4 linked regions of the Homo sapiens genome follow. The protein of the gene in region 2 interacts with the protein of the main gene of each other region in a biochemical or structural test. Each region holds a gene or a part of one and is shown on either strand. Other genes may lie near its edges. The genes, in order: LRP2, NOS1AP, SYN2 and SYN1.

What was found.
Region 1: the proteins of NOS1AP (region 2) and LRP2 form a complex in vitro, tested with the Homo sapiens proteins (one study listed by BioGRID).
Region 3: the proteins of NOS1AP (region 2) and SYN2 form a complex in vitro, tested with the Homo sapiens proteins (one study listed by BioGRID).
Region 4: the proteins of NOS1AP (region 2) and SYN1 form a complex in vitro, tested with the Homo sapiens proteins (one study listed by BioGRID).

The regions. Positions count from the first base shown.
Region 1 is NC_000002.12:169,240,522-169,247,560, reverse strand, and holds part of LRP2 (low-density lipoprotein receptor-related protein 2 precursor), read left to right. Parts: intron 1-45; coding exon 46-183; intron 184-574; coding exon 575-856; intron 857-2,628; coding exon 2,629-2,868; intron 2,869-4,038; coding exon 4,039-4,158; intron 4,159-4,488; coding exon 4,489-4,605; intron 4,606-6,195; coding exon 6,196-6,573; intron 6,574-7,039. UniProt on the Homo sapiens protein: Multiligand endocytic receptor. Acts together with CUBN to mediate endocytosis of high-density lipoproteins. Mediates receptor-mediated uptake of polybasic drugs such as aprotinin, aminoglycosides and polymyxin B.
Region 2 is NC_000001.11:162,072,671-162,079,709, forward strand, and holds part of NOS1AP (carboxyl-terminal PDZ ligand of neuronal nitric oxide synthase protein), read left to right. Parts: intron 1-7,039. UniProt on the Homo sapiens protein: Adapter protein involved in neuronal nitric-oxide (NO) synthesis regulation via its association with nNOS/NOS1. The complex formed with NOS1 and synapsins is necessary for specific NO and synapsin functions at a presynaptic level.
Region 3 is NC_000003.12:12,189,363-12,192,546, forward strand, and holds the end of SYN2 (synapsin-2), read left to right. Parts: intron 1-1,127; coding exon 1,128-1,263; 3' UTR 1,264-2,670; downstream 2,671-3,184. UniProt on the Homo sapiens protein: Neuronal phosphoprotein that coats synaptic vesicles, binds to the cytoskeleton, and is believed to function in the regulation of neurotransmitter release. May play a role in noradrenaline secretion by sympathetic neurons.
Region 4 is NC_000023.11:47,609,840-47,616,878, forward strand, and holds part of SYN1 (synapsin-1), read right to left. Parts: intron 1-7,039. UniProt on the Homo sapiens protein: Neuronal phosphoprotein that coats synaptic vesicles, and binds to the cytoskeleton. Acts as a regulator of synaptic vesicles trafficking, involved in the control of neurotransmitter release at the pre-synaptic terminal.

The sequences.
Region 1 (7,039 bases), on a different chromosome or scaffold from region 2:
GTTAGCTGTGACTGAAAATACTAATCTACCCATGTTTCTTTTCAGAGCATTTATTTTTTACTGACTGGAGACTGGGTGCCATTATTCGAGTCAGGAAAGCAGATGGTGGAGAAATGACAGTTATCCGAAGTGGCATTGCTTACATACTGCATTTGAAATCGTATGATGTCAACATCCAGACTGGTGAGTGAGATTGCCCAGTTTTTTTTATTTTTTTGTATGGGTTTATTTATTTGTTACAGTGGCTCCTGTTCTCTTTAAGTACTTATTACTTAAAGGTCTAGCTCCTGGTAGTTTTATATTCTTGTCGTTCACATAATCTAAGAGTGTAAGACTTGAAATCTCTGTTCAATGCTGCTAGCCTTAAACATGTTGTCAGGAAAAACACATTTTGGGACTTTTCCATACCTAAATGGAATGTTGTATTTGGCGGGTTGATTTCCAAGAGGAAGCTACTTTTTAGTATTGGGTCTGAAAAATGTTTTGTCCTGTTTGTTTTCCTTCACAAATCAAACCCGTGACCTACCTAGTGAAAATGTACATGACTGACTCCCTCGGGGCTTTGCTTTTGCAGGTTCTAACGCCTGTAATCAACCCACGCATCCTAACGGTGACTGCAGCCACTTCTGCTTCCCGGTGCCAAATTTCCAGCGAGTGTGTGGGTGCCCTTATGGAATGAGGCTGGCTTCCAATCACTTGACATGCGAGGGGGACCCAACCAATGAACCACCCACAGAGCAGTGTGGCTTATTTTCCTTCCCCTGTAAAAATGGCAGATGTGTGCCCAATTACTATCTCTGTGATGGAGTCGATGATTGTCATGATAACAGTGATGAGCAACTATGTGGCACACTTAGTAAGTAGCTATGCACTGGCGATATTTCCTGGGATGAATAGAGTAGAGGTGGGCTTTAAAGAAAATAAATAAAAGCTTGGGCTATTTATATGGGAAAAATATCTTTTAGAATTTCAGATTCTTAACATGCACTTTGAAGGCTTTTAGGAAGCTAAGCAAGAAATTTCATTCATAATGTTATGGATGGTTTCTGGCCTTGATTTAGACTATCTTCAACAATTTTTTTCCTTGACATTGGCTGTTTGGACCAATGCAGTCATTATGTCTTGGCAAACTCCTCAAAAAGTCAAATCGAAATAAACTAGATCTGACCAGGCAAGGTGGCTCATGCCTGTAATCGGAGGCCGAGACAGGAGGATTGCTTAAGTCCAGAAGTTTGAGACCAGCCTGGGAAACATGACGAAATCCGGTCTCTACAAAAAATATAAAATGGCACATGTATACATATGTAACTAACCTGCACATTGTGCACATGTACCCTAAAACTTAAAGTATAATAATAATAAATAAATAAAAAAGAAATAGATGAGCTCAGAAAAAAATATGTATATAAAATTACAAATAGCTGGGACTATTACAAAATACAAAATTACAAAATACAAAAAAAACAAAATTACAAGTAGCTAGGACTACAGGCACATGCCACCACACCCAGCTAATTTGTATTTTGTATTTTCACAAAATTTGTAAAATACAAAAATTTGTACTTGGGAGGCTGAGGTGGGAGAGTTGTTTGAGCTGGGGAGGTTGAGGCTGCAGTTAGCCAAGACTGTGCCGTGTACTTCAGCCTGTGCAACAGAGTGAAGCCCTGCCTCAAAAAAATAAGCAAACAAACAACAACAACAACAAAAACCAAAAATAAAGTAGACCTAACATTTAGCAACCGAGAGAATAGTATCACAGAATAACTACTTGCAATCATAGCCTTTGGAAAATCTCATGTGTTATATTCCTTTTCTCCCATGTTAGAGTAAAATAAATTAACAATGAAATGGTGGTCTTAACCTTTATATTCTTCTTTTGACGGTAATCTAGTCTATATAGTTTGGGGCCTAATAAACACTATTGCAGAAGGCAAAAGTATTACATTCAAATTAAAAAAAAGATAGAGGACAGTTGAAATCTCAGAAATCTCTATCAAGGTGAAGTTAATACTAATAATAACCTTTCTTTTGGAGAGAAAGAGGAGTGACAGATTTGCAAGAGTAAAGTGCTCACTTGTACATTTTTCTGAAATTTTTTAAATTTTCATCTTTTTGTGTATTATCTTCTTGTTTCTAAGAGCACAGCATTTTACCTTAATATTTTATCTATTTGCACTTTTCATATGACATATTTTCAAGCTTTCTATAGTCTGAATTTGAAATTGTGGTTGGAGGAAGTAACAGCTTGAAAGTTAAGGATGAGCTTTAGAGTGAATCCAACCAGAGCGTGAATCATAGGCAGGTTCCTAAATCTCTCAAAGACTCAATTTCCTTATCTGTAAAATGCAGACAATTATATGTACTTTATAGTATTCTTGTGAGGATTTAAAGAGAACTTATATGATGTGTGTGGGTGCATAACTTAGAAAAATGCCTTTTCTATGATAAATACCAAATAAATGCCAGCCAATAATGATGTTAGTGATGATGACATCACTTGATGAACATTTCTCCTTATTATATACAATGCCTCCATTAAAAAAGGTGAACTGAGCCTTTATAAGGCAAGAACTCATTTAAAAGGCTGTAAAAACAAATGTCTTCATGACCAGTTTGTTACTATTGTAGATAATACCTGTTCATCTTCGGCGTTCACCTGTGGCCATGGGGAGTGCATTCCTGCACACTGGCGCTGTGACAAACGCAACGACTGTGTGGATGGCAGTGATGAGCACAACTGCCCCACCCACGCACCTGCTTCCTGCCTTGACACCCAATACACCTGTGATAATCACCAGTGTATCTCAAAGAACTGGGTCTGTGACACAGACAATGATTGTGGGGATGGATCTGATGAAAAGAACTGCAGTAAGTTTTGAGCTGGTTTCCCTTGGTTGGTCAGCCTCGTAAATAGACTTCAACAACCAAATGGCCTTGCATTCTTTCCTCTAAGGCTCATGCAATTTTCATTGTCTCTTTAGTACTTCTATTCCACTTGTCAATCTCTGTGTCAATAGGTTACAAGAACAAAGGCACGTGCCTGCACATGGGATTCTTAGAGTCCACCTACAAATATTGAGTTCTATGGAAGCAAAGCAAGGACTGCCTCTGATGCCAAACATTTCAATTCAGATAGGAATTGAAAAAGTGAAAATCCCTCAGCTATCTATTTATATATTTAAAACAATACTAAAAGTCATATAGATATATCCAGACCTTTGGCTATTGATGTTTCTTTTTCATTTGGTACAAGCAAAAAGACATCAAAATAAAGAGGCACAGAAAATTTAAATTTCCTTTGATCTTATCCACCTGTTTTCCATCTTGCCAGTTCTGCTTTCCTTTAGCTTGTTGTTTTATTTCATGTCTTCAATAATAGTTTAAGATGGAGCAAAGTTCCCTGGGCTAAGTTCTAGTCCTGGTTGCCTGACTAGGCAAGTCACTATCATTTGGAATAGATGAGCTTTAAGATCCCTTCTAGCTTTCATACCCTATAAGTGTGTATTTAATATAATTTCATGTTGTGGGTGGGGCCAGCCACTGCATCCGACTCCAAGGCTATGGTCTTAACAGTAAGGTAGGACCCTGGTTTTTAGAATTGTTCTGTTCAGACTTTTAAATCCAGTTTTGGGGGTCTGTCTACACACTGTTGCTACTAGGCATGTGGGTCATGCTGGTTTTGTTGCCTGATTGGGCTCCATTGCTTGGCTTTGGTCTAGAGTCATGGACTTCATAGTATTCATGAAATGTAGTCCAAGTCCAAGCACATGATGCTCACTTTCTGAATGTGGTCTATTTTCCAAGGTGTAATCACAGTTTCTGACTCTGCCCTGTAATCTTTTTATTCTCAATTCTAAAACCTATCCTAGTTTTGAGTTCTTTTGCTTAGCTGACTTTGATAGTGTGGCTGATTCAAAAGAATTTTGAACCCATGTACAATTGAGATAACTTCTGTAGCTATTTAGCCATTTTTAGTTTGGCTCTGGTACTTGTTGCACAGGAAATAAACTTGTTGGTTTTGTTTTCGGATGACATTAGATTCGACAGAGACATGCCAACCTAGTCAGTTTAATTGCCCCAATCATCGATGTATTGACCTATCGTTTGTCTGTGATGGTGACAAGGATTGTGTTGATGGATCTGATGAGGTTGGTTGTGGTAAGTGCATTGCCTTCTTTTTTATTCACAATGTTTATTTAGAAAAATCTCAGTGTTAACACATGGACACAGGGAGGGGAACATCACACACCGGGGCCTGTTGGGGGGTGGGGAGCTAGAGAAGGGATGGCATTAGGAGAAATACCTAATGTAGATGATGGGTTGATGGGTGCAGCAAACCACCATGGCACGTGTATACCTATGTAACAAACCTGCATGTTCTGCATATGTACTCCAGAACTTAAAGTATAACAACAAAAAAGAAAAATCTCAGTGTTTAGTCATTTTAGCCCTGAGCTAATTTCTAATGCTTTTCTCTTTCATTCTTAGTATTAAACTGTACTGCTTCTCAATTCAAGTGTGCCAGTGGGGATAAATGTATTGGCGTCACAAATCGTTGTGATGGTGTTTTTGATTGCAGTGACAACTCGGATGAAGCAGGCTGTCGTAAGTAACACATACCCAGAATGTTTCAGACAAAGGGGTCATTTCATTTTTGCCAGTATTGATATTGATATTGCCACACATTTTCCCTAACTCAGACAAACTGGGGGAAAGTATCCTCAAAGGAATGTGGTATTGAACATACAGTAAAATTGAGTAGACATTGCCATATAATGTGTAATTAACAAATCAAGTGGTTGTATAAATGGACACTTCAAATAGTCTCTTAGATGGGCTAAATATTTCTTAGATATTTTTGTTTTCACTTTTAGTTTTTCTTAGGACTTCCCACTTTAGTAGGTTTAAACTTTTGAGGCTCTACTCCATATAAAGATATTTTACTGGTTTCTTTTAAGTTTCAGTAGAGAAGTCATATCATGGTGTAGAAATGGTATGGAGCTGTGTTTAGTATTGACTCTGATGAATTCATTCTTTGTGCTATTATGTGTTGAATATCTGCTAAGATGTTATCTATGGAGATTATAGAAGGCAAGAGACAATTAAGCAAGATAGACAGTTACAAGGGTCTTAGAAATGGCACAGATAAAATTCTATGGAGGTTCAGAGAAAAGAAATTTCTTCTAGTTGGAGGATTCAAGTAGGACTTCATACAGTATAATTCTGATGGATCTATAATCTTCACAGACTGGAAACCTATACTCACATGATTTGTTATTTGCCCACTTTTTGTTTTAAATGGATTTTAGACTTGCAAAAACTCATCAGTGAGTTGATCATTTGTTTGAACAATGGTGTTTTAGACCAAAAAAGTAAGTTTTCATGAATTCTCCTCCTGCGTCAGAAAGGTAGTGTGTAAAGCCATGGATTAAAAAGAAAAGTTAAATAAAATGCTTATATACTTTATAGTTTGCACAACATCTAGAAATTACTAATCACTAATTTTCCTGTTTCACATTAAAAACATAAAATTCTGTGATGAGCTGAGGTTAAACTGTCAATTGCCGCTGGCTTGCTGTTGCCTTGTGAGATCCCTGGTAGAGAGTTTTGGTTTACCCTTGTCAAATAGGGAAGCAGTTCTTACGTATCTCTCCAGGATTGCTTGATGAATAGTGGAAAGTTTGCAAAGAACTGAGTATTTACCATCATCTTTAGTTAGTGTGTGATGGTTTCATTAGGTATAGTTCATCTGAGGGAAAATAATAACACCCAAACATGATATGAAACACATGAAGTTCAAAGTAATCATAGCTATTTAAGCTCTATTGTAATGTTCTGGTGATTCTTTCATAGAAAGATAGATAAACTTTATTATTGAATCTGCAATTGGAAGTACATTAAAAACACAGGAAAAGGAAACAGGATGTTCTTTTGACACAGGTACTCATCTGCTAGTCAGCAGTTGTGCGTTCTGTACTTCGTTTGTTGTCAGAGCCACTAGCTGCCACAAAGAAATATTTCTATGTACTAGAGTGTGGGAGAAGACTCTATATCATTTAGCCTTAAATATTAATTTGGTCATAGTTGTTACTATAAACCTACTATTGGATCCAAAATCATTTCCTCTGAGTCTAGACTATAAAAGGGATCACAAATTACATTCACAAGCCGATTTACCCCATGTTTTCCTTCTAGCAACCAGGCCTCCTGGTATGTGCCACTCAGATGAATTTCAGTGCCAAGAAGATGGTATCTGCATCCCGAACTTCTGGGAATGTGATGGGCATCCAGACTGCCTCTATGGATCTGATGAGCACAATGCCTGTGTCCCCAAGACTTGCCCTTCATCATATTTCCACTGTGACAACGGAAACTGCATCCACAGGGCATGGCTCTGTGATCGGGACAATGACTGCGGGGATATGAGTGATGAGAAGGACTGCCCTACTCAGCCCTTTCGCTGTCCTAGTTGGCAATGGCAGTGTCTTGGCCATAACATCTGTGTGAATCTGAGTGTAGTGTGTGATGGCATCTTTGACTGCCCCAATGGGACAGATGAGTCCCCACTTTGCAGTAAGTTTCCTGACCACAGTTTACTGGCCATAAACTCATTCTGAACAGTAGCCTGGTGTGCATCACCATTGTCACAGTCACTGTGTAGCTTTGTAGGAAGGATTTCAGTTCCTCTATGAGTTCACATCTGTGTAGGGGGTAACCATAATTGAATTCAAATACATCACCATTGGATAATTTTCTGATTAAATCCTTTGTACTTGGTTATGTGTTTTTACTTCTTTTTATGTCTTTGTTTCAAAAAATGAGACTAAATTGAGGCCATTAGATTGTCAAATTAAATTTGGTTCTGTTGGTAATGTGCTCATTAATTTTTCTAACTTTAATATTTTCTAATTTCAATCAGAACTTATCACAAAAAAATGAAGTCCAGGGATTTGTGTTGCTGTGATTAAAGTGCTGTGATTGGCATGTAATCCTAATTACTGTCATTTCTTTCTTTCCTCTTTAATCAATGCTCACTCTC
Region 2 (7,039 bases):
GTAATTGATGCTGCACCCTGGCACATTCAAACACCATGTTAGTCAAGACCTAAGCAGAGGTGGAAGCACGAGCTTTTCTGTCCTACATGCTCCTGGTAAGAGCCTTCTCTGGCTGTTTTCCACATCCCTGCAGAGCAGTGTCTATGCAACTGCACAATCACTGGGATTTCAGGGTTAAATCCACATCGCAGTCTTCCCTTGTTTTGGAAAAATGCAGGCTGGAAAATGCAAATGTATTATTGTTGCCTTGTCGGGTACCCTTGGAAAATGAGTGCAGCTCTTTCTCTCCCAAGGGCTGGCAGTTTTTCAGAATCAACATTGGATTGAGTGTTCCTTTGGAAGTATGCCACTCATTTTCAGGGTTCTGCAGAGATTGAAAGGTGTGGGGTTAGGATCGAAGGGCATCTGGGTGGCAGAGGTTCTGTGCACTTAAAAACCCATGCATTTAGTTATCAAGTGCAATCCCAGATTTTTTTCACCTGCAGTACCTCATTTAATTCTCACTACTTCCCTAGGAGATGGGTCTCCTTATGTCTATTTTATAAACGAGGACATAGGCTCAGGGAGGTTGTTGCGTGCCTTAGTGCTCACAGTTGTGTATGACAAAGCCAAGATTTAAGCCTGGGGCTTTGACTTCAGACTCCCAAATCCAGTGCCTTTTCATTCAATAATTTTTATGGAATATTCACTCTATGTTGGCCACGGGTTTGAGTCACAGCTCTCTAGTGGAGTGTTCTCAGGTTGCTGGCCTCTAGAACTCTGGTACAGGAAATTATTCAAACATTTATTTATTTATTTATTTATTTTGAGATGGAGTTTTGCTCTTGTTGCCCAGGCTGGAGTGCAATGGCATGATCTCAGCTCATCACAACCTCCAACTCCCAGGTTCGAGTGATTCTCCTGCCTCAGCCTCCTGGGTAGCTGGGATAACAGGCATGCGCCACCATGCCCAGCTAATTTTGTATTTTTTGTAGAGATGGGGCTTTCTCCGTTTTGGTCAGGCTGGCCTCGAACTCCCGACTTCAGGTGATCTGCCTGCCCCAGCCTCCCAAATGTTGGGATTACAGGCGTGAACCACTGCGCCCGGCTCAAACTTTTAATGCTTGGCTGTTTCCAGATTTCCCTTTGGGCTGAGAGCTGCTTGCCAGGGAAACCTGTTGTCTGTGTTCAGAGTGGGTACCTGGCTTACTGACTGATGCTGGTGGGTGGGTAAATCTCACATGCCCTGAGAGCCTGTGGCTCCTTAGTAACTGCCTCCTGATCTCCCAGTATGTCTTCCTGGTGGCCAGTGCCATCAACTGACTGTCTCTCCTCTCTTGGTGAGAAAGAGACTTTTAATGCTATGGGTACAAAGGATAATAAGAGTATTAATAATAGTTATATCTTATATCTGTAGGTGATTTTTGATTTGCATTGGACTTCTACATACAAAGACTTTTCCTCTTATAGAGACAGGCACAGGCACATTAGTGTTATCTCGATTTTTCAGACCAAAAAATGGAGATCAGAGAGATTAATTTGTCCAGAGTTGCAAATTGGTGTATCAGTTAATGATATTTATTGAGCACTTACTATGTGCCATACATTATTCTAGCCTCTGCCTCACTTAATCCTCACACTCCAGGGCTTTTGACTCCAGGTCCATGGTTCTTTCACCTCCTCCAAGGCTCACTCAAACCTGAAGTATTAATAGTTGCTCCCTTTGTAGTCCTAACACTCATTGCCTAGATTGTTCCCTTATATCTGCGTGTATGATACAGATGGTCAGAACTGGAAAGCACCATGGCTCATCTAGTACAACCCCCTCACCCCATCATTGTACAGATGAGGAAATTGAAGTTTGGAGGGGAAGTCATGGACCCAAGGTCACATAGTCAGATAATAACAGAACCAGGACTTATCCCTGGTTCCCTGGCTTCAAACTGGTTTCAGTTATCCATCACTTCAAAACAAACGACCTCAAGACTCAGTAGCTTGAAACAATAACTGTTTAATTTGCTTATGAATCATGGCTCAGGAATTCAGGCAGGGCTTGGCTGGGCTGTTCTTCTGTTGCTTATGGCGTTGACTGGATCACTCACTTTGCTGCATTCATCCACAGCTAGGCTGGAATGTTCAAGAAGGCTTCACTCATATGACTGTGCCTTGGTCGTCCTTCATGTGACTATTCTCTTCACTGGCTGGCTTGGATTTCCTCACAGCATGGTGGCCCTTTTGTTTGGCAGCTGGTTTTCAGTAGGGGGTGTTCCAAGCAGGAAAGCAGAAGCTCTTAAGGTTGGGTCTTTCTGAGTTACATAGGGTCACTTCTGCCACATCCTGTTGGTCAAAACAGGCTATTAGGGAAGAGACATAAGCCCTACTTCTTGATGGGGGAATGTCAAGTTCACATTGCAAGATTGCACGTGGGATGAGAGATATTGCTGAAGCTGTTTACCACACAAAATTCTGTTTTTTCCTCTCTGCATATATCTTCTCTGGTGATATGGAATGTTCTTTGAGGACCTTGCCTCATGCCTTGGTGTATCTCCCCCTCCCAAGCCTCAACATCAGGTACAAACATAGTCACAATGAAAAATTGTCAAGTGGAAGAAATGACCAATTGTGGAAAGTCTGAAAGCAGTAAATATCATTGCTGAGTGATTTTGTGGCTTGGGAGCATGTGGTCAGATTGAAGCTGAATTCTCTGGCTATATTTCCTTCCTTGCTACCTGGCTTCATTGGTTGATGGTTTCCCTGATGTGGATTTTAGAGATTCCAGTAACCTCAGCAGGATATCTGTGGATGCCTCTTAAACATACGGCCATGAAGGCCTCCAGATGAATGACATTTGGTCACCGTAAATGGGGTATCCCTGACTCGTCTGAGCCTGCATGGCATGGTACAGAGCTCTCAGAACCATTCCACTATACACTGGGTGTTTATGTCCCCTTTCTCCCTTCTCTCCACCCAGACTAAGGGTCCTGTCTTCCAGGGTTCTGGAACAGTAGCAATTCAGATTAAGGGTCTGATGTATTTTCTGATGTCATCATTAAGGAGGAGACGTAGTTCACTTTCTTATGCTTTTCCAGATGCTTTTAAAAACACTTATCTTCTGCCCAGACTACTTTTTTTTTTGGTGGGGGGCAGTGAGTTCCAAAGATACAGTACTGCTCTGAAATGACACCTATTTTATTTGTCCTTACATTGCTCTCAGATGTCCCAGTATGTTCCTCCACACCTGGTATCTTGGGATTTGATGGACAAATCTATTTCCACGTTAGCTGTACATTTCATGATTTTATGGCTTTCAGTCGTAGTTCCTTTGCCCACAATGTCCCAGTCCTTTTTAGTGGTCAAAATCATGCAGCCACATCTAATGATGACCTTTGCCAGTTATCTATACTAATCAGGCTTGACTCACTGTTTACTATTGCCTACTCATAATGCAGCTACTCCCAAGACTCAAACTTTCAGAATGCTTTCGCTGGCTATAATTACCTGCCTTCCCTTTATACCTTTGTTGCCTTGAGGATGCTCTTAGCTCCTCAGTGACCTTTTTGCTGCCCTTGTCCTGCTGTCTACCCTCCCCAGCAGCCTGGGACCATGCCCATGGCCGTTCCTTCCTGCCTTTTTGCCCTACCCTGCAAACTTGATCTTTGCTACTTTTCTTCTTCCTTTCTGTTTTTGGAAAAGACCATTTATATATTTTCTTTGGAGAATGTCTATTCTGATCCTTTGCTCATTTAAAAGTTGGATTGGCTTTTTACTATTGAGTTCCCTCCTTTCTAATAGTTTTATTGAGATGTAGTTCACATACCATACAATTCACTAATTTAAAATGTATAATTTAGTGATTTTTAAGATATTACAGATCTGTACTACCAGCACCACAGTCAATTTTAGAACATTTTCATCACATTAAAAAGAAACACTAGGCTGGGCGCGGTGGCTCACTGCTGTAATCCCAGCATTTTGGGAGGCCAAGGCGGGTGGATCACTTGAGGTCAGGAGTTCAAGACTAGCCTGGCCATCATGGTGAAACCCCATCTCTACTAAAAATACAAAATTAGCTGGGCATGATGGCACACACCTGTAATCCTTACCCCCTGCGTCTTCCCAGACCTGAACAGCCACTAATCTACTTGCTGTCTCTAGATTTGCCTATTCGGGACATTTCATATTTATGGAATTATACAATATGTGGTCTTTTGTGTCTGACTTCTTTGCCTTAGTGTTGTGTTTCAGGGTTCATCTATAATTTATCAGTACTTAATTCCTTTATATGGCTGGATAATATATCATTGTATGGATATACCACATTTGGTTTGTTCATTCATCAGCTGAGGCACATTTAGGTTGTTTCCATTTTTGCCTCTTAAAAATAATGCTATAAACATTCATGTACAAGTTTTTGTGCAGGCATGTTTTTATTTTTATTTTTTAAAATTTATCTTGGGTAAAAGTAAAATGGCTGGGTCCCATGGTAACCATGTGTGACCATTTGTGGGACTTCCAATGTGGCTGCATCGTTTTACCTTTCCACCAGCAGTGTGTTCATATCTTCACCAATGCTTGTTGTCTGACTTTTTGATTCTAGCCATCCTCCTGGGTGTGAAGTGGGATTTCATCATAGTTTTGATTTGCATTTCCCTTTTGAACAACATAGAATGTCTCCTCATTCCCTAGGAAGCAGACTCAGAGAAAAAAAAAAAGACCATCTTTTCATGTGTTTTTTGGCCATTTATATATTTTCTTTGGAGAAATGTCTATTCTGATCCTTTGCCCATTTAAAAGTTGGATTGGCTTTTTTACTATTGAGTTGTAAGAGTTCTTTATATATTCTGGATTCAAATCCCTTATATAGATTTGCAATATTTTTACCCATTCTGTGGTCTTTTCACTTTCTTGGTATTGTCCTTTGAAACACAAAGTTTTAAATTTTGGTGAAGTCCAATTTTTTTTCTTTTTCCCTCATTTTGAGATCCATCTGCCTTCCATGTCCTGTTAGTCTGCCCTTGTCCTCTTAATTATGCCCTTCACTCCCCACCCCCACCCTGGCACAGTTACATCTCCTGGGCACTGGCTTACTCCTCCCTGCCTAAGAGTATGCTATGGCCTTCCCTGTATGAAATACCTCTTCTTTCCACCTCTTTCTTTAATTAACATGTTGTCTTTCTCCTCCTTTCACAGCTAAGCCTTGTGAGAGAGTACTCCACCCTCTGCAGTATCTCAGTCTTCATTCAGTCCCTGGCCACTTCCTTCCAACTTCTGTCCTGGCTGCTGTACTGAAATTGCTCTGCTGCCCCCTTCTCTATCCTCATCCTTTTTGACTTTTCTTCCTGAGCTGCCTGTCCTAGTCCTCTGTGGAATGCCTCATTGGGCTCTCTGTGCCTGCTTGCAGTCAGCCAGCCCCTTGCCCCTGCCCATACCTCCTTCTTTTGTGGCTGTTCTACCTCCTCCCTTTGCCCTCTACTGTGAGTGCTCCATTCCCTCTCCTTTGGATTCTATCTACTCCCACTCTTCTGTTATGCAGGCTGCTGGCTCTCTACTTCAGTCCAGACTCCACATCTTTATGCGCAGCTTCCTGCTGGTCATCTGTACCTGAATGTGTTGCTGTCCCTATCACTCAACAAGCTGGAAATCAAATTTCTCTTCTGACTTCATTGTCTTTTAACGACCCCACCATCCTCTTGGGCACATGGGCCTGACACTTTAAAGTACCCCTTGTATTCTTTGATTTAACAGCCAACTCAAATTTGCTGTTTACTGGGTACCTATGATGTCCAGGCTCTACTCTCCTGTACCCCACATCAAGTTAGGTGCCAAATCCTCTTGAATGTTCCCAGTGACATCCATCCACCCACCCTGGCTGGTCCATCACCCGTTCAGATGCTCCACCCCCTCCCCTGTTATCAGGGCCATCAATAACCTTCTGAAGGCCTCCAGTGTCCCACTTGTTCTCTGATCCCCCTCATCCCTTAAACTTTTGCCCTATCAATTTTCTTGAAATGGTTATCCTCCCACTCAAAAACATGAAAAGTTTCTGTACCTACTATATTAGAACCAAAATTCTTAGTATGATATTCAAGGCTGTTTTTGAACAATTCCCTTTAATCACCCTGGGCTTCAACCCAACTGTAGTACCCACCATTCCCTTAACCCTCACTGCAGTTTCCCACCCCGTTCACAAGTCACTCTGTGAAGTGGATGTTACCAGTCCCACCTGCTTTGTATTAGAGCTGCTTGTCCTGTCCAATTTTCATCCCTACATTGTCATTGTCAGGGTCCATGTCACTCTGCCCCCGTGTCTTCCACAGCCCTGAGTACAGTGCCTTGCACATAGAAAATGTATTTTGAATGAAAGAGATGATCCCTATAAGATGGCCAGGACCCTCCTGGGTCACCCAATGGTGAGAGGTGCCTTAATTGACTCTCCACTCCTCCCCACCATTTCTCTTGCTTTAGTCTAGTAACTTCCGGTTCCCAGTGGCTTGAGGGACCCCCCAGCATGGCCTCTTTCTGATACCCCCAATCTCACACAGTGCTGATTCCTTCCAATGAAAATACCAAGTAAGCATTTTTTTTTCCTGAATTAAATAAAATTCCACTGATGGATGTCCAGTGGAATTAGAATCTGAATATAGAACATATGGCCAATTTCAGGAGTAGGTAATTGTCATTTCTCAATTGTCATTTATGTAAGAAACATTTTCAACTTGTTTTCTCATTAATGAATTGATGTCTTTTTTTTTTCCTAATTCATGGTTTATTTTCTGTAATTTGCTACTTTGCAATTTTTATGACATGAATTTGGTTGGTAGCATAGCATGGCATGAATTCAGGAGCCAAACTGTGTTTGGGTTCAAATCCTGGCTCTATCCCTCACTTGCTACTTGACTTTGTGTGAGTTATGTAACATCTTTCCTTTAGCGTTCTCATTTGTAAAAAGAGGATACAAATATCTCATACTTCGTAGGGTTAATGGGAGGATTGAATCAGTAGTACCTGTAAATGGCCTAGCACCGTGCATGACACAGAGTTGGCTGCTGTTTTTATTATT
Region 3 (3,184 bases), on a different chromosome or scaffold from region 2:
GTAGTTTGGATTTTCTCATTAGAAAACTCCCTAAGAAACTTGTAAAGGCCTGATATATATCTCTTTTGCCACTGGACACCCTGAACCCCATAGACCTCATATTAGCGCTCTTCTGAGGAGGGTTACAAGGGTGGTTACTACATCCATTTTAAGAACAGGGAAATTGCCGGGTGCGGTGGCTCACGCCTCTAATCCCAGCACTTTAGGAGGCAGAGGCGGACGGATCATGAGGTCAGGAGTTCAGGACCAGCCTGGCCAAGTGAAACCCCATCTCTACTAAAAATACAAAAATTAGCTGGGCATGGTGGCAACCATCTGTAGTCCCAGCTACTTGGGAGGCTGAGGCAGTAGAATCGCTTGAACCGGGAGGCGGAGGTTGCAGTGAGCAGAGATCGCACCACTGCACTCCAGCCTTTGCGACAGAGATTCTGTCTCAAAAAAAAACAAAACAAAACAAACAAAAAGAGAACAGGGAAATTGAAGTGTTAGAGTTTTGAGCCAAGCCAATATATTCTTTTGGAATCAGAGAAGAGATCAGAATAGAAAGAGCCAAAAGTGCCTAGAGATCTTCATTTTACCAAACTTGACAGATGAGAACCCAAAGAGAGGCACGTGGCTTGCCTCCAGTTAGGAGGGAGTGAGTGGCAAAACGAGACTTTGGCCCAGGTCTTCTCATCTGGCTCCACCAGTTGACAGTTGATAGAGAAGACAATGCCAGCATCACAGGCCCATTGTGACTTCTTTTCATCAGAAAAGTAATGTGAGATTCCTAGGTTAGTTCTTACCAAGTTGGGATCTGTGAAATTTAGCCCTTGGGCATTTCAGATTAAATTAAAGAAGCGGCCTTTGAGTCGCCTCTTCCTCCTCTTTCCCTTCTTTATTTTTTTCCTTCTCCCTTGTTCCCACACTGTCCCCACCCTTTCTATTCTAGTAGCACCAAAGTTGAGGAAGTAGCGTAGGAGTCTCCCAGGGTCTTGGTAGCATGGCCACTTCTGGCATTATCCTCCATCACCTTGGTTTCCCAGGGAGGGAGTGGGGGTTCTAGCTGTGTATCCTCACGTCACCGTCCTTCCCTGCCTTGCTGGGAACACCACCCTCTCACATTCTCTCTGGTTTTTATCTTCAAGCAAGTCGCAGTCCCTGACAAATGCCTTCAGCTTCTCTGAGTCCTCCTTCTTCCGGTCTTCAGCCAATGAGGATGAAGCCAAAGCAGAGACCATCCGGAGCTTGAGGAAGTCCTTTGCCAGCCTCTTTTCAGATTAGCTCTTCAGACACACGGGGCACCCAGCCCAACCGGGAAAGGCATCTAAGACATTCACCAACAACAGTCAGCCAGCTTGGTGGTTATGTCCCATGACCTTGACGTGTGTGGTCCCTTCCTCTGCTCTGTTGTACTAAGTGATGTTGTGCAGCCCAGAAAGGACCATTTGACAGTCTCAGGGCAGGTGCCTACCCAGCAAGGGGTACCTGGCATCAGAGAGGAAAGAGCTGCTTCCCTGTAGTCATGAGAGCTTCCTTCTGAAGTCATCGTTCGCTGTGAGTTTAGTGGCCTTATTGTGACAGTGCCATCATGTCTTATTCTTCCCTGTGAAACCAGGATTAATCGTGGACTCCTGGCAGCTTAACCTAGCTCAGTTGCAGTGCTAAGCATGCCCCGCCCCCATTCAGTGATACCTGTTTGGGAAGTATATACTTCCCCAAAAGTACTCTTGGCCCTAAGTTTTAGGAACTTTCCCCGACCTGGATCCCTTGTCATACCTGTGTTACTGTTTAAAGCACACCCACCCAACTTACAAGATCTTAGGCTGCTGTGGTGGTGAAGCACCTTGAGTCTGCTGATATTCGGGAGAACAAGGATCTGCAGTTTCCCCTTTTCTCCCCTCTGAAGAGTGGTTCTTATGTGCAATCTGCAGTAACCTTGAACTCCAGAGCTGCACTATAGAGGAGAATGCATGCCACTATGACAGCAGTATGCCAAGCTTTGTGTTCATCTCCTAATAAACGTTAAGACCTTTGGTGTAATAAAAGCAGCAGCATTCACCAACATTTGATTCAGCCATGAGGTCTTGACCCCTTGGCCACCCTTTAGGCTGAGAGAGTGTCCATGAGGGGTGTGTGTGTGTGTGTGCTTGAGTGTAGGGAGTGAAAAATCTAGGTGTGTGAAGCTGTTTGTGTCAGTTTGTGTGTGTGACTGCAGGTGTACATGTGTTTGCAAGTGTTTGAGAATGTGTCTGTCCTTTACATACCACTTCTGGGCCTCCTCGCACCTCCCCAGTGAATCTGTCTCCTCCAAGACACCTAGCCTTCCTTCAGCAACTCAGCGTTTCTACCTATATTACGGACTTTGTAACCTTTCAAATAAGCACAGAACCCTTGCTCCCGGAGGAGTCAATTTAGACTCACTTGCCTGGTCTATCATCAAGCTCCTCAGCTGAGGCCCACATGGTGGTGCCAATGAGGCTGGACCAACCTGCTCTGACAACCAGGCTCCCACAGATCTCAACGAAGGCATCCTAAAGAGGCCTGCAATTGAGGGTGGGCTCTGAGGGATTTCACTCTGGCTGCTTCATGACTCCCTGATACTCAAGTATATTTTCCCAAAGACCACGGATGCTGTGAAGATAAACACTACATCTGCACCAATAAAAAATCCATATATTAAAATGTTAATATCTGAATGTTAATAAGTATCTAGATAATTTCCTACACATGACACCCATCCTACTAACTCAACAAGATAACCTCCTCCAAATGCCACTATCTTAACTTCTCTTCACGGGCAGTAGATGCTGCAAGGTCAGAGAATGAATTTCTCCGAGAACCAGGGTCTCCTTTCTTACTCATTCTCTGTTTTCACAGTTCAAGGATTGAGCACCGTACCCTCTTCTTACACTTAGAAAACAGGAAGTAGAACCTCCCATTGAGTGACCCCTGGGGGGTGAGAGCCCTCCTCCCACAACACACATAACTAAGGAACAAACCAACCAAACCAATGCGTGGGGTACCTGGGCGCAAGGCAATTGACCTTTAGAGTTCCTTCTGTTTCCAGCTGTAGGGGAGGCAGATGTCCTCTTAACGTTCTGTGGCTGGGCCTGAAAATTAAGCATACATAAGACAGATGAACAGGACAAACGTATACACATTTTATTTAATATTTTTATGCGTACGTGGGAATCTTCATAAG
Region 4 (7,039 bases), on a different chromosome or scaffold from region 2:
AATTTCTTCTCCCAGGTGGGAGAATACAGCGCAGGCCCCCAGGGTTTTGGAGTAGCGGTGACTTTTCCTGATGGTGGGCTGTAATGGGATTCTGGTGGAAGGGAATGTACTGGATGGTGAAATATCCCTGGAACTTGAGTGATGTCAGGGAAATGGTAACCAGACTTGGGTGACTATTCCCTAAACGCCATTGAGTAGCTGAAGAAAGACCTGACATGCTCAGGGTGAATTCAAGGCAAAATGTGAAAGCCAGAGGATCTCCCTGACTGCATTTAAGGAAACCCTCATCTCCTGCAGTCAGAGGGCAGACAGAAGGGAGGGCCAGGCTCAGAATTTAATTCTACGTGGTGGCGGAGCTTCGGAGAAAGTTGACTTCTCAGGCCCAGCACATCTCCTGGGCCATGCTCATGTCCCTAATAGGACAGGAGTAGGACTCTGAGATGGGGATATCTGGGCAGATGCAGTTAAACACCTTGAACTTACAGACTCACCTGCATCCACTGGGCCTGCTGAAGTAGACTACTCCCCTGAGTTAGAATATAGACCTTCTGCTTGAAGATAATGCAGAGGCCTCGGATGATGCAGGTGCTTTGTAAGACAATGCCTGCCCCCCTCAGAGTCTACCCCCCACCTACCCTCCTGGAAACCAGACCAAAAATTAGGGTGAAATCCTAGTGAAACCTGACTGGACAGGTTCTAGGCTTGCAAAGGGAGAGAAATGATCTGTAGAAGAACCTAAAGAATCTGGCTAGTACGTATTGGCAGGAGCTGGGAAGGTATGCATGAGACTGGATCCTGAGGACAATGGGCGAAGGAGGTAGAACAGGAAGTTGGTGTGCTCTCCCAGGATACGGAACTTAAAACCCTGGCGAGGACTCTAGGAAGTGTTACTAACACACTGGTATTTGGAAACCTGGAGTAAACAATGGCCCACACTAAGTGAAGCAGAACTTCCATGGCAGATTGCACAGGGAAGGATTAAAGGGCTCAAAGAAGCAGACATGTTGGAGTAGATATACTACTGAAGTCTGGAAAACCCACCAGCTGATTAAGGCCTGGAGGATACACTCAACTTATGAAATTAATAAGAAACATGCTGGTGAGGGTGGTACCAGTCACGCTGAGAAGCACAGTAGTGGTAAGGTGATAAATGAGTCCTGGCCCAGGTCCTGCTTACAGTGGGTCTGGTGGGTCTAGAGACCCACCCAGTGGTCACTTCCTCAGTTCACAAATGCGTAATTGCAATGGCATACTTTGTAGTTGTCAGAACCCCTACATGGGCTCCTCAGCCTGTGGGATAAGAGCTGTTTCAGTAGGGAAGTCCAAATAGAAGCTTCTAAAATGGCGCACACCCCCATGCCCTGAACAAAACAATAAACCACAAACAATATTGTGTGCATCCTATGGGTGATGATGGAAATCAATGCCACATTGAAAGATCTAAAGGATGCAGGGGTGTTGGTCTCATCTTATCTCCATCGAGTTGAGCAGTCTGGCCCCTGGAGAGGTCAGATGGGTCCTGGAGAATGCTTGCAGATTACTGCAAGCACAATCAAGTAGTACCCTTAGTTATACCTGCCATACTGGACACGCTGTCATTGCCAGAGCAGATTAATAAGACCTCAGGTACAGCAGGTGGCTGCTGACTTGGCAAATGCATTCTTTTTTATTCTGATTAGAAAAAAGGATCAGAAACAGTTTACACTCACATGAGACTGATGATAATATTCATAGATGGTCTTGCTGTAGGGCTATGCTATCTCTCTCACCTGGTGTCATAATATAGTCCAGAGAAACCTGGACTATCTGGACATCCCATGGAATAGCACACTGGACCACCACATGGATTACATCATACTGATTGTGCAAGATGAGCAAGAGAGGGTGAGCATATTGCCCTGGTAAGACACATCCACTACAGAGGGTGGAGGATAAACTCCACAAAGACTCAGGGGACCGATGCATTAGTAAAATTTTTAGGAATCCAGTGGTCCAGGGCAGTAAACCAGGACAGCCCCTCCAAAGAATAGAGCAAAGCATTGAATCACGCACCTTCCACCATGAAGAGGAAAGCACAATACCTAGGAGGCCTCTTCCCATTCTGGAGGCAGCATGTCCCCCACACACAAATAATGCTCTGACCCATATTCCAGGCGACATGTAAAGCTACCAGCTTTGTGTGAGGGCCAGAGCAGAAAAGGGCTCTGCAGCAGGTCCAGGCTGTGGTACAAGCAGTCCTGCCATTTAGGCCAGATGATCTGGCAGATCTTATGATACTGGAGGTGTCAGTAGTGGGGAAAGATGCAGTGAGGAGCTTATGGGAAGCCTGAGTGGGAGGCCCTTGGGGTTCTGGAGCAAAGCCATGCCATCTGCAGCAGAGAATTTTACGCCTTTTGAGAAAGACACCCCATTGAGGTGCTGGGCCCTGATAGAGACAGAATGCTTGACCAGGCACCAAATGATTGTGCATCCAGAAGTTCCCATTATAAGCTGGGTCCTGCTGGGCCCGCCAAATAATAAAGTCAGGTGGGCCCAGCAGTCAGGATTGAGCCCAAGCAGAACCAAGCAAGGTGCATGAGCAGGTAAGTAACCCTGATCCCCATGTCTTCCACACTGTTGTGCTAGTGCCTGTCTCACTAAGGGGACTCCTTAAAACTAGCTGATGAAAGAGGGAAAGGTCTAAGCTTGGTTCACAAATTGGTTGTCTTAGTATGTGGGTGGAAGCCAAAAATGGGCAGTGGTTGCACTATAACCCAACTGGAATGGCCTTGAAAGACAGTGGCAGAGCTCCCAGTGGGCAGAGCTTCAGGCTGTGCACCTGCTCATCTCCTTTGTGCAGAAAGAGAAGTGCCTCAAGATTAGAATACATATATCCACTTATGGGCAGTGGTAAATGGTTTGGCTGGTTGGTCAGGGGCCTGGAAATAAAAAGACTGGAAGATCCAGACAAAGAGGTCTGGGATACAGAAATGTGGGCAGACACCTAGGAGTGGGCAAGAAATGAGGAGTGAGACTGGGCGCGGTGGCTCACGCCTGTAATCCCAGCACTTTGGGAGGCCGAGGTGGGCGGATTACCTGAGGTCAGGAGTTCAAGACCAGCTTAGCCAATGTGGTGAAACCCCATCTCTACTAAAAATACAAAAATTAGCCGGGCGTGGTGGCGCACGCCTGTAATCCCAGCTACTCGGGAGGCTGAGGCAGGGGAATTGCTTCAACCTGGGAGGTGGAGGTTGCACTGAGCCAAGATCGTGCCACAGCACCAGCCTGGGCAATAGAGCGAGACTCCGTCTCCAAAAAAAAAAAAAAAAAAAAAAAAAGGGAGGAGCGAGGATCTTTGGATCGTGTGTTAACACCCACCAGACAGCATCTGCCATGGCGCCATGGAAGTGACACTAGGCAACCAGGTAGACAGCATGAGTCAGCCCGATGATGTCAGCCAGGCTCTAATCAGCCACCCCAGTGTTAGCAGATGGGCACATGAATAAGTGGCAATAGCAGCAGAGAGAGAAGCTATGTGTGGGGGCAGCAGTGTTACTGCTGAATGTCCAATCTGCCAGCAACAGAGACTAACATTGAATCCCTGACACGCCACCATCCCTCCAGAAGGCCAACCAACCACTTTGTGGCAAGCTGATTAGATTGGGCCCCTTCCATCCTGCAAAGAACAGTAATCGATTTTGACTGGAATATTCCATATTTGAGTTTGCCTTTTCTTACTGCAGGACCTCAGCCAGCTCACTGTCTAAGGGCTTACATAACGTTTGATCCACCAGCACGAGACCCTGCATAACACTGCGTCAAACCAAAGGACACACTTTATAGCAAAGTAAAGGAATGCAAAGCAAAGGAGGTGCAAAAGTGGGCCCATGACCATGGAATTAACTGATGGTATTACACACCACGCCACCCGGGAGCTGCTGGCCTGATGGAATGATGGAACAATTTGGTGCAGCCACAGCTAAGATCCCAGGTTGAAGGTGAGATCATGCAAGAATGGGCACCATCCTCCAAAACAGTGTCAACCCTAAATCAATGGCCATTGTAGGTGCTGTGTTCCTAACAGGTAGAATACACCGGTTTGGGGACACAGAGGTTAGGAAGGAGTGGCCCAGCTTACCAGCAATCCCAGTGATCCACTTTTGAAATTGTGCTTCCTGTTCCCTCAGGGCTCTGCAAGGTTAGAGGTCCTGGTTCTCCAAGGGGGAACACTGCTACCAGGGGACACAGCAAGAATCCCATTAAACTGTAAGCTATGATTGCCCTCAGGGCACTTCGTGTTTCTCATGCCAAGGGACATAAAAAGGAGCCATTGTCTTGGCAGGGGACGTGACCAACCTTGCTCCTCAGGAGGAGGTAGAGCTGCTGGTACACAGTGGAGGCAGGGAGGAGTATGTCTGGCACCCAGGGGATCCACTTGGGCATCTGTTGGTACTCCTTGCTCAACTTTGATAGTAAATGGGAAATGTGGTTGTTTGTACAGCAGCTACAGCCTGAGAAGGGCATGGGGACCAAAGGCTCAGGGATCTCTGCAGGATGGGAGCCACCCAGACCAAGAGTGGTGCTAGCTGAGGGTGGGGGGAATCTAGAATGGGTAACAAAAGAAGGAGAGGATGAATATCATTTATGACGTTGAAATCAACTGCAGCAGCAGAGACTATGGCTCATCTCACTACCGTGCTCTTTCAAGTGTCCCTGAGAAAACAAGACCGATTAGAATTCTGGAAATGCCGTTCCCCAATGGGGTGAACTTACTATAAGAAGGAAGTGGATCGGAGCAGTGCAAGGTGTGGACTATATGCTCCCCCCAGATCCTTACCTCCTTGTTCCAGACCTTTGCATCTATCCTCAGCTTCTGGAATTATCCGCTGCTGATGGCTCATAGGTGTCCCTCACTGGGCATTGGCCTCTGCAACAGGGATTTGCCTCACCCAAGATTACGCCTCCTCCCAGGGGGCAGCCTACAGCCAATGACTGACATAGGAATTCAAAGCCTGGCCACCCCGCTTCAACTGGGACAACTCTGAAGGGTCATTCCAGTGCCAGAGCTCCCCAGAGGATTGGCCGAGGCCTCTTTTGTGGTTGCATCACAGCTCAACTTTTCCCTCTGCACAATCCTGCTTCCCTCACAACCTCCCCCACAGGTGTTATTCCCAAGCGCTCTCCCCAGTAAATCTGCATGCAAATCTCAGAGTCTCGGGGTCTGCTTCCAGGGAAATATATCTGAGAAAAGAAGCCACAGTAAGAAATAAAGCTTATATAACCCACTATATATGTATTTGCATAATAACTCATCCTATATATGTATTATATAAGACACATATGTTGTACAGCAAATATGAGAATATAGAATGTCTTATATATTATGTAACATATAAAATGTTGTATATTACATATTATGTGTATATGTATTTAGAATGTATATAAATACATATGCATAACTGGAATTAAAGTTTCAATAGATAATTACCTTTACTATGTGTAATGCAGTCTGATTTTTCTATGCTATTTTATTTCATTTCATGAAGAAGAACATATACATATAGATGTATTATGTACTGTAAAGCCATTGTATAACACATGTATTACATACCGTATGTCATATATAATATACATTACAGATTGTATATCTTAATGGAATAACATTATATGTTTTGCTAAACAACAACTCCATTTACTATGTGCAATATGCTCTGTTATTCTCTATTTTTATTTATCCTACTTCAAGAAGAAAGTGAAATGCTGGTCATAAGCCAATAGGTGACCCATAGTTTGAGAAACACCAGAGAGCCGGGCACGGTGGCTCAAGCCTGTAATCCCAGCACTCTGGGAGGCCGAGGTGGGTGGATCACGAGGTCAGAAGTTTGAGACCAGCCTGACCAACATGGTGAAACCCCATCTCTACGAAAAATACAAAAATTAGCCAGGCATAGTGGCATGTGCCTGTAGTCCCAGCTACTCAGGAGGCTCGCTTGAACCCAGGAGACGGAGGTTGCAGTGAGCCGAGATCGTGCCATTGCACTCCAGCCTGGGCGACAGAGCAAGACTCCGTCTCAAAAAAAAAAAAAGAAAGAAAAACACAGGACAAAATTACCCACAAAATGGGGGAGATGAGTCTCAACTTAGAGTTTTCAACTTTAAACCACAGAGGAATTGAGACCCAGGAAGGAATGAGGGTGGTGAGGTTTGGTGGAAAAGGCGTCAGACTGTATTTCGGTGTACATTCCATCACAGAGTTTGCACAACTCCTGCTTTATTTGGGGCTGAAATCCCTGAAGCTAGTGTGGTTCTGAGTGTCTGCAAGTTGGTAAAACAGGTCTCTGTTCCCCACACTGAGCCTGGCGTACATACATAGGCTCTGTCCCTTTGTCCACCCCACCCCACATATAGTAGACACTAAATAAATATTTGCTAGATTGCCTGGAAGAAAAGACTGGAGGGGATGCTGGGATAAAGGGGGGCTTCTGAGATGCAGAAGGGGAAGGGATGGATCTTTCACTGAATTCAGCAGGTGCTCAATAAATGTTTTCTGGACAAAGAAAAAATGGAAAACATTGAATTTGTGATTATGGAAAGGGGAAGGGACTTGTCAGTATTCCATAGATAATAAATGCTTGATGGAAAGAAGGAAGCAGACGCAAAGGACCTGCATGGAGGGCTGGAGTGGAGACCGGAAGTCTAAAGGAGGGTGATTACCTATATCCAGCAGAGGCCTCATTGATGTTTGCTGACTTCAATGGAGCAAACTTAACCAGGAAGATAACACGTTGGTGAGTGGACGTTGGTGAAGGAATTACAGCACGTGCTCCATAAATGCTTTACAGATTGATAGAGAAAAAAGCGGAGAAGCCTGCTGCAGGGATGATAATGTGGCTGTTTGAAAATAATACAGTAAGAGATTAATAAGTGTTTTCTGGACTAATTCGGGGAGAAAAAGGCAGCTGGGGAGATGGCTACTAAGTGGAGGAAGAGGCCTAGCTAGAATAAATGGAAAACAGTGCACATTGTGAGCTTTCAGGATTGTGTTGTGTAAAAGGCAGGA